2 separate regions of the Homo sapiens genome follow, and region 2 is linked to region 1. Evidence: fine-mapped expression QTL. A gene starts in region 1. The other region holds a variant in brackets. All regions are shown on one strand. Distances are between the middles of the regions.

What was found.
Region 2: its variant is fine-mapped to the expression of NECTIN2 in whole blood (TOPMed, PIP above 0.99).

Annotation. Positions count from the first base shown.
Region 1 is chr19:44,843,666-44,849,157 of GRCh38, forward strand. It overlaps NECTIN2 (nectin cell adhesion molecule 2), which reads left to right and starts at 2,632. Exons shown (of 9, transcript NM_001042724.2): 1 at 2,632-2,948. The coding sequence starts at 2,861. RefSeq lists silencers at 996-1,395, 2,263-2,312, 2,393-2,472, 2,603-2,702 and an enhancer at 4,342-5,324.
Region 2 is chr19:44,871,396-44,876,395 of GRCh38, forward strand. NECTIN2 (nectin cell adhesion molecule 2) reads left to right here. Exons shown (of 9, transcript NM_001042724.2): 3 at 458-754; 4 at 2,521-2,638; 5 at 2,935-3,083. Among named protein-coding and RNA genes, the nearest start is that of TOMM40, 17 kb to the right of the region's middle. The variant A/C (reference allele first, on the strand shown) is at 2,241.

The DNA of each region.
Region 1 (5,492 bases):
CTGGCTCTGCCATTTTGTTTATTTTTATTTATTTTTAATTTCTATTTTATTTTATGTTTTTCAGACTGAGTCTCACTCTGTTGCCCAGGCTGGAGTGCAGTGGTGCGATCTCGGCTCACTGCAACCTCCAACTCCCGGGTTCAAGCGATTCTCCTGCCTCAGCCTCCCAAGTAGAGACAGGGTTTCACCATGTCGGCCAGGCTGGTCTCGAACTCCTGAACTCAAGTGATCCACCCGCCTCAGCCTCCCAAAGTGCTGGGATTACAGGCGTCAGCCAGGGCGCCCCGCCCTGGCTCTGCCATTTTGTAACTCAGTGAGTCACTTCATCTCTCTGCTTCAGTTTCCCTATCGCCCATGGCGCTGCATGGCTTACATGAGATAATATTCGCAGTGCACTTAGATCAGTGCCTGGCACACGGTAAGTGCTGACTACATGTATTAACAGTATCGTAAGTGCCGGGCGCGGTGGCTCACACCTGCAATCCCAGCATTTTGGGAGGCTGAAGCGGGTGGATCAGGAGGTCAGGAGTTTGAGACCAGCCTGACCAACATGGTGAAACCCCGTCTCTACTAAAAATACAAAAATTAGCCGGGCGTGGTGGCGCGCGCCTGTAATCCCAGCTACTCAGGAGGCTGACTCAGGAGAATCGCTTGAACCCAGGAGGCAGAGGTTGCAGTGAGCCGAGATCGCGCCACTGCCCTCCAGCCTGGGCGACAGAGCGAGACTCCGTCTCAAAGAAAAAAAAAAAAAAAGGATCATAACTAAGACTCGAATGCGGAGGGATAACAGCCTCTGCTACTTGAAACCTAGTCCTTCTGGGGAGGAAAGCCCAGGTGTGTGGCAGGTGGAAGGGAGGGCGAGCCTAGGTGGTCCTCTTGCTAGGGCAAGAAGCCCCCAAGCACCTGCCCCCAGCTGAGCAGCTCCGCGCCTCCTGGCCCTGGACGAACTTGGGCCCAGACTGGCGCTCCGTGGCACCCCCTCCCCCGGCCTCCCGCTTCGCGCCCTCATCCCGCCCCCCGGCGCGGCCTCACCAGCTCCCCCTGGGCAGCCCAAAGAATGCGAAGAGGTAGGTGGGGGTAGGGAGGAGGGCGAGCCGCTGGGAGAGACAAAGGGCCCGAGTCTGAGCGAGAGACACAAAGACGCGAGGAGGCTGGGGAGATAGGGGAAGTGGGACAAGGACGCGGGGAGTGACCAGGTCCGGAGGCCGGACTGGAGCCCAGCCCCACCCAGCCCGGCCGGGCCAGCGCAGCGCGGGGGCCGGTCTCTGCTGCCCCCTGGCGGGTGGCTGCGGTGAGAAGGCGGCGCGGAGCAGGTGTTGGGAGGGGAGGACCAGGGCGCGCAGGGAGGTAGGGAGGGAAGGAAGCAGAGAACAGAGCAGGGACAGAGAGACAGCGAGAGAGACTCGCACGCAGAGACAAGAGACGCCGAGAGGGAGACACAGAGAAAGAGACAGGGACAGAGAGACACAGATAGAGACAGAGAGAGACACACGGAGAGACAGAGACAGAGAAGCACAGAGATAGAGAGGCACAGAGATAGAGACAGAGAAACACAGAGACAGAGAGGCACACAGAGACAGAGAGGCACAGAGACAGGCCGATAGAGACAGAGATACACAGAAATAGAGACAGAGACAGAGAGGCACACAGATAGAGACAGAGAGACACAGAGACAGAGTCAAAGGATGGAAAGAGACATGGGGACCAAGTGACCCAGAAACAGTGACAGACAGGCCGGGCTTGGTGGCTCACGCCTGTAATCCCAGCATCTTGGGAGGCCGAGCCGGGAGGATCGCTTGAGGCCAGCCTCAGCAACATAGTGAGACCCCGCCGCCCCCCCGCCCCGTCTCTTTTATTGAAATAAAGAAACAGTGACTGACAAAGGAAGACCAGAAACAGAGCGACACCGAAGCATGAGGACGGAAAGACCCAGAGAGGCAGAAATACAGGGACAGAGAGGAAGACCCAAAGAGAGTGAGAGAGACACAAAGACACGTAAGAGAGACAGAGAAATCCAGAAAGAAACGAGTGCAGCGACACCTAGAGTTCGGGGCAGAGATTAGAAACGCACGAGGGTACGAGAAACAGGCTCAGGGCGATGGGCTCGACCTGCGGGGAGGTCGCACAACCGGGACGTGCTGGGGGCAGAACCGTAAAGCCCCACGTGCCTCAGGCAACTGTGATGAGAGGACCCGGGCAGGCAGGAAAGGGCAGGATTCGAACTGTGGGTGGGACAGAGGCCAGGACGGACTGAGCTAAGAGACCGAGAGAACTCCGGCTAGGGCGAGGGGCGGGGCTGGTGGAGGCGGGGCTGGTGGGGGCGGAGTCGGCCGGAAGGGCCGAAAGGGGCGTGGCAAGACCTTGGCGAGGCGGCCGGTAGGCAGGGGGCGGGGCGTGGGAACTACTCGGGAGCAGAGGGGGCGTGGCTAGACCTTAGGGGGCGTGGTTTAACGCCGGGAGCGAAGGAGACAGAATTCTTTGGCAGGGGCGACCTTAGAATCCTGGGGAGGAGCGAGAATGGAATCCCGGGGAGGAACAGGGGTGGAATCCGGGGGGCGGGGTCAGAACGCCAGGAGGGGGCGGGGCCGGAGCCAGGGTCGGCTTGACTCGGGGGAGCAGCGGGTGGATCCTGTGACGTCAGCGGGTTCGAACCGCCGGAGCTGAGCGAGAGGCCGGGGGTGCCGAGCCGGGCGGGGAGAGCTGGGCCGGGAGAGCAGAACAGGGAGGCTAGAGCGCAGCGGGAACCGGCCCGGAGCCGGAGCCGGAGCCCCACAGGCACCTACTAAACCGCCCAGCCGATCGGCCCCCACAGAGTGGCCCGCGGGCCTCCGGCCGGGCCCAGTCCCCTCCCGGGCCCTCCATGGCCCGGGCCGCTGCCCTCCTGCCGTCGAGATCGCCGCCGACGCCGCTGCTGTGGCCGCTGCTGCTGCTGCTGCTCCTGGAAACCGGTGAGACGAGCGGACGGCCCCCTGCCCTCGCGCGGACCCCCTCCAACCTTACCTTCCGAGCTGGGGAAGCCGAGCACCTTCCCCGCCCACCCCCGGCTCCCCGAGCCCCCTCTCGCGTGCCCCCTTCCTGGCTGGCCCCACAGACTCCGACCCCCTACACGTCCGATTCTCTCGAGGAGACTCTGACCCCTCCTTTCTGCATCTCTCTCACCACCACCCCCATCCTTCTTAATCCAATTGCCCATCCTACGCCTGCTTGTCTGTCCCCCTCCCCATTTCTCGGATTCCCGCGCCGAAAGGGTTAAATCCCAGGAAGGCCTGGTGCCCCCTCCCCACCCCGCGCCGAGTAGTTCACCCGGATCTGGGTCTCTGTCTCCTCTACCCCTCTCAGGAATGTGGGGAATGTTCCCCCCACCTACCGCAGTAAGGTCTCGAGGAAGAGGCGAGACCACCTCCCTCCCCTATTTTTCCTTCTTCCCGGCTTGGGCGTCTGAGGCCCGGAGAGAACTGAGGACAAGCGGACCTGATTCGGGTCCCTTGGAGGGCTAAGGATAAGAGTTCTGGCGACTTAGGGGGAAGGGCCTGAGCTCGGAGCTCCAACCCCGAACCTCAGGGAGTTGGGGGTTCTGACTCCGTGGACTCCAGAAAAATTAGGGGCCGGGGGCTCCGTCTTCAGGGTCCCTGGTAGAATGGAGGCTAGGCGCTAAGTCTAACTGGGATCTAGGTAAAACTGGGGGCGAGAGAGGATCAAACTTGTAGCTTCTGGATTTAATTGTGGGCAGGGGGCTTCGTTTTCAGGGTTCCCGGCAGAACCGGGGGACAGGAGACTCGATCTCGTGGGCTTCAGACTTAATTGTAGGCAGAGGAACGTCTTCTGAGATCCAAACAGAAGTGCGAGCAGCGGGCCCCGTCTCTTGGGCTCCAGATATGATCAAGGGTCGAAGGCTCTGTCTTGAGGCTGGAGTCTCAGTCGCCTGAGTCCCAGATAGAACGGGAGGCCCCGAGTCCCAGAGGCTGGGAGACTCCTCCCTTTCCCTATGAATGGTCGGGGGCGACGGAGACGTCGCCGGGGAAGTTTTCCTGGTTTCACTCTCGCCGAGCCAGGGAGGGGCGGGGCGGGCGCTCCTGGCTCCGGGTTCCGGACTCCCCGGTTTCGGGACCTTATCTATCCTCTGGTAGCGCCTTTGTCCTCAGAGCCATAGCAGGAGGTGGACGAGTGGAGCCGCCGCCCTTATCCCCCGTCCCTCCCATTGCTATGCCTTGGACCCCCTGGCGTCCTTCCATCCACCCCACTAGGGGAGGAGAGCGGCCCCCCTGGGGAGGGAGGGGCTGGGAGGGAACCCTTGAAAGAGGCGCTGGCCCCGCCCCTTGCAGGTGACCCGGTTGTGTATTCCCAGCGACAAACTCTGGGATGCTAGAGTTTCCCGAGGGTTTGCGCAGAAGAGAGCTCAGGGGGATCTTGGGGGAACCCCGGCCACCTCTCTGGCCTCATTTCCCCCAGGATGGCTCTCACTGGCCTCCCAGCTTTGACCCAGAGCTGGGAACTCCGCTTCCATCCCCTGCCTCTCCCTTCAGGCAGAAATAGGCAGATGAGATCAGAACTGGCACCTCTGGGTGAATTCTCCGAACCCACCAGACCCTGAGCCTACTGTTAGCTTGGTGCATGATCTCACCGAAGGCTCCAGCTTGCCCTGGGAAACAGGTCCTGTTTCTGTTTCCATCTTAGAGATGAGGAAACAGGCTCAGCAAAGGCAAGCAGCCTTCTCAAGGTCTCACAGCAGGTCCCGGGGAAGCCGGGCTCCGGTTCTTCAGAGCCCCGCACCGGGTGGGCTCCAGGAAGTGCCTCTGAGTTTCCATTTCCTCCCTCGTAAAAAAACTGAGATAACAATCCTTTCCCTGCGGACCATCCGGAAGGCTCCCAGGCCCCACTGATTCCCTGTGAAACCTCTTAGCCCCTGGAGAAGGAGCTGTCGGCCCCTTTCTTGACCACCCCCACCCCAATCCTTCGCCTCTGCTGTCCACTGGCTGGCCGGCTGGCATGTGCTCGCTCTCCCTCTCTCTCTCTCTCCCCTCCCCCTCCCTGTTTTCCTCCTTCCCTCACTTTCTTTCCCCCTCTTCATCTCTCTTCGTTTCTCACCCTTTCTCTCTCCATCCCTCTCCAAGCTCTTTCTCTCTTCTCCTCTCCCCATCTCTCTCTCTCCTCTCCGTCTTTCTCTGTATACCTGTCTAGCTCCACTGCCTCCCCCGCTTGGCCTCCTCGGGGAATGCGGGTGCACCACCTGGGCCCCCAGCTGGGCCGGCTCCCCTCCCCCAGCTTTCTTCCCTGCCCATCCGTGTGTCCATGTCCGCCAGGCAGCCCCACGTAGTGGAGGGGGAGGGGAGCAGAGGGACGGCAGCCTGGCTGTCTCCTCTCATTAGGGAAGGGGGACTGGGCAGAGGAGAAGTTGGGGGGTGGGTATATAGAGAGGCTGGAGCTACAAGGATGGGTACAGAGGCCAATAGAGGGAAGCGGTCAGACACAGATTTAGGAATGGGGTCAGAGAC
Region 2 (5,000 bases), 27 kb after region 1:
TGCATGCCTATGGTCCTAGCTACTCTGGAGGCCAAGGCGGGAGGATCACTTGAGCCTAGGAGGTGCAGGCTGCAGCAAGCTATGATCACACCACTGCACTCGAGACCAGGTGACAGAGCGGGCCCCTGTCTCTAAAAAATAAATAAAGTAAAATAAAATGGGCAACACTTGGATAGGGCAGTGCAGGCCAGACATTACCCTAAGCCATTTACCTATCAATGTATTATTTAATTCACACAGCAATCCTAGGGGTGGGTACTTTCATTATCCCCATTTTACAAAACAAGAAACAGCTACAGAGTTGCAAAACCACTTATCCCAAGCCAGGCCGCTGATAAGCAGCAGAGCTGGGATTGGAACCCCGGCAGTTAGGGCCTAACCACCCTGCTCCTCTGCTGAGTGTTTGTTGAATGACTGCCGGTGAGGAGTGACGCACCCCCTCTCCTCCTCTCCCCAGCCAAGCCCAAGAACCAAGCTGAGGCCCAGAAGGTCACGTTCAGCCAGGACCCTACGACAGTGGCCCTCTGCATCTCCAAAGAGGGCCGCCCACCTGCCCGGATCTCCTGGCTCTCATCCCTGGACTGGGAAGCCAAAGAGACTCAGGTGTCAGGGACCCTGGCCGGAACTGTCACTGTCACCAGCCGCTTCACCTTGGTGCCCTCGGGCCGAGCAGATGGTGTCACGGTCACCTGCAAAGTGGAGCATGAGAGCTTCGAGGAACCAGCCCTGATACCTGTGACCCTCTCTGTACGCTGTGAGTGTATCGGGGGTGACCCCTCCCCCATCAAAACTGCCTACACTGGCTTCTCTAAAGCACTGTCTACATTGTCTCTGAATGTTGTCTACGTGGGTTCCCTGAAGCCAAATTCTGCACTACCTTCCTGCCATTGTCTACACTGGCTCCCATGGGCAAATCTACATACTTCCCCCTCATTGTCTACATTGGCTTTACTGGGTTCCTGCATGCTGTGCCTAGTCTGTGGTAACCTGGGATGGGCTTGCAAGAGCCAGTTTGATACATTTCTTTCCAATTCCACATCCAATGAAGTCTTCTCGGTAGCTTGAAATCAACCTTGGGGAATATTTACACCAAGGAAATTGGCAAACCCTAGAAATGGGGGCTTCTTTTATTCCCCAGAGAGTTGGTTTACCAGCAAAGAGCTGCCCCCAACAGTGTCTTTTCTGGCTCCCATGGACCCCGGTTGACACTGCCCCTGGACCGTTAGATCAATCATGCTGGGCCATGTCCACATGTCTACATGTCTACACTGCCCAACCTAACATCGTCTCCACACCTTCCCATACTTCTGCCTTGACTTCCCTAGGTGCCATCTATACTGAGTCTCCCAGAGTCTCTACACCGACCCCTGATCCTTGATATTATTTACATTGTATTTATTATTTATTATTTATTATTATATTTTTATATATTATATATTATATAAAATATATAAATTATATATTATATATTAACATATATTTTGTCATTATTTATTATTGTTATTTAATATAATATAATTACATTATATTATATATTACATTACAGGCTCCACCCCCCGGGCCCTGTTGATCCTGACCCCTCCCACTGGGTTTTTTGCTAGCTCTTCCAGAAACTGCCTATACTCACACCTCGTAATGTTACCCAGAGAGGCCACCCTGGCACTCTTCACACAGAATCCCTCAAATACTGGCTTAACCACCTCTTCCACCACTGTCCAAAATGACCACATATCCCAACTCAATGTTGTCTACACTAGCTCCCCAGGCAATGCCTCCACTTACACAGATTCCCTAAGCCAAGTCTACACCAGCTCCCCCAGGCAACATGCATCACGTGCGCCCATAAGTGCAACAGCTCCCCTGAGCCTCGTCTGTGCCACTTTCCTCCCGGGACCTACACTGGTTGCCCAAACCCTGTTTTGACATCCTCCCTCCATGCCAAAAACACACACACAGGCCGGGTGCGGTGGCTCACACCTGCAATCCCAGCACTTTGGGAGGCCAAGGCGGGCAGATCACTTGAGGTCAGGAGTTCGGGACTAGCCTGGGCAACATGGTGAAACCCTGTCTGTACTAAAAATACCAAAATTAGCTGGACGTGGTGGTACATGCCTGTAATCCCAGCCATTTGGGAGGCTGAGGCGGAGGGATGGCTTGAGCCCAGGACGTGGAGTTTGCAGTAAACCAGGATCACCCCACTGCTCTCCATCCTGGGCAACAGAGCAAGATCCTGTCTCAAA[A/C]ACACACACACACACACACACACATTATTTGTAGTGGCTCCCTTAGGCACTGCCAGCACTGAACAATAACTCCCACAAAATTATCCACAGTGGTTTCCCTGAACAGTGTCTACACTGACATCAGCACACAACAGCCTGGACTGATTTGCCCCAGACAGTTTTGACTGCTGTACCTCCTGCCAACCCGCCCCGTTTCTTTAGCATTCCTGTCTATCTGCTAACTTGTCCACCCGCTCTGGGATTCTCCTCCTTGCTGATCCAGTCCCCCCATTTCCCCCAGACCCTCCTGAAGTGTCCATCTCCGGCTATGATGACAACTGGTACCTCGGCCGTACTGATGCCACCCTGAGCTGTGACGTCCGCAGCAACCCAGAGCCCACGGGCTATGACTGGAGCACGTGAGTCACGTGGTCTCAGAACCCTGGGTCTGAGGGAGGCGGGGCTGGGGGCCTGGACTCCTGGATCTAAGGGAGGAGGGGCTGGGGGCCTGGACTCCTGGATCTGAGGGAGGAGGGGCTGGGCCTAAATTCCTAAGTCCTCCAGGATGAAGGGAGCTTGCATTTTGGCAATTTGGGGTCTCCGGGAGTACTTAGGTCCCTGGAGCTTGGCTCCTGGTGGGTGTATCTTTAGGGATGAGGCCTGTGCTCCCCTCTCGACCTTGGTATCCCTCTCACCTGACCCCACACCCCTCCAGGACCTCAGGCACCTTCCCGACCTCCGCAGTGGCCCAGGGCTCCCAGCTGGTCATCCACGCAGTGGACAGTCTGTTCAATACCACCTTCGTCTGCACAGTCACCAATGCCGTGGGCATGGGCCGCGCTGAGCAGGTCATCTTTGTCCGAGGTGAGTGGGTCTTGGGGGCCGTGTGTGGAGACCTGGGTCCGCTCCCCTGGAGTTCTGCCCTTCAGGACTTGGGGCTGCACTGGGGGAGGCTGCGCCGCCGACCTGGGAGGGATGCAGACCTGCCTGGCTGAGGGGAGATGAGGGTTGGCCTTCCCCTCGTGGCCTCAGACTGGGGTCTGGATTTGGGGTGTCGGGGTAGGTGAAGGCAGCAGAGTTGGGGGGTTGAGGACTTTGCTCGGGGTTCCTAGAAAGTAGAGGCCTGGGTAGGGTCCTCACGAATAGACCCGAGGAAGCTGCCCTGGGCTCCAGCTCCTGAGAAAGACGCACACCTAGAGTCAGGCATGCAAACTTCAAAGAGACAGAAACCAAGAGCTCCCACCCCCAGAAACACAATCCGGCCCCAAGGCACGGAGCCAAAGAGGAAAAGCACAAAGCCAGACCATCACCCAGTGATGGAAACTGGGTCAAACTCACAACTGCAGGGCCACACACCTAGAGCGCGGCCGGGACTGTTAACAGAGCCATGCTTCCTGGGACAGAGAGACCCCTGGGTCCTGGAGATAGGGCCAGAGACCCCTCCTGTCAGAGCCACAGCTGGCAGGATCCACAGCCACAGACACTCCCTGTGCTGAGAAATTCTGTTGCAGAGATGCATCAGAATCCAGACACTCACCTGGATGGTAACCCTGCACGCTCAAACCCATTGTCACCAAGACACACACCCAGGAGGACAGTGGCACCAGCCAAGATAGACTGAACGAAGCCAGATGACACCTGGAAAGGGACATTCTTTTTTTTTTTTTTTGAGATGGAGTCTCGCTCTGTCGCCCAGGCTGAAGTGTAGTGGCGCAATCTCAGCTCACCGCAACCTCCGCCTCCCGGGTTCAAGCAATTATCCTGCCTCAGCCTCCTGAGTAGCTGGGACTATATGCGCTCACCACCAAACCCGGCTAAGTTTTGTATTTTTAGTAGAGACAGGGTTTCACCATATTGGTCAGGCTGGTCTCGAACTGCTGACCTCAGGTGATCCACCCGCCTCGGCCTCACGAAGTGCTGGGATTATATGCATGAGCCACTGCGCCTGGCCAGAAAAAGACATTCTTAGAAACACGCCAGGGCGACGGTCCATGCAGCACACCTGTGCAAACACGCAATGTGCAGGCCCCCCAGAAACATGACTGAAGGTGTAGGGACAAACTCCCAGACAGGGGCTGTCCCTGTCATGCAGACAGACTAGCCACGGAGGGACAGAAGCAGACCCCCTTACTGAGTCATAATCTTAGAATGCACACACACTTGCAGGGACACCCGAGGGAAAACAGACACCTCTTCAGGAATCCAGATACAGCCAGGGAGATAGGACACCCCTACGGGAAACACTGTCACAGACAGCAAACCCAGAGAGACAGCTGTCCCGCTCTGGGCTCGCCTGGCGCGTGAGGATGCACATAAGTCCCCGGAGGAAGACGTCACACAGACACGCTGGGGGCAAAACTAATCCAGGACAGCAACGGCTGCACACGGAGGAATGTCATCCCTCACTCACAGACCCTCAGACGGAAAATCAAAGACATCCTGGGAGGAGCTTCTTCCCAGGAACCCTCCCGAAACTCCCCGAAACTCCTCCGAAATTATCCAGAAAGTCCGTTAGGGAGATTCTCATTCAACAAATATGTGTTTCCTGTTTGCTAGGCACTCTTGCTGAGGTTGGGAATACAATGGTGAATGAGCCACAGTCCCTGCCCTCAGTAGCACACCCAGGGGAGGGTCAGCTCCACCCGCCCAGACAGACACCGAACTGGAAATACACCCCTAACCTCTACCCCAGATACACCTGACAAGCTGATCCCCTGCCCACACACCCAGCAGGTGGCTCCAAGGTCAGAGCCTGCAGAACACAGACGCAATAGAGAAAGA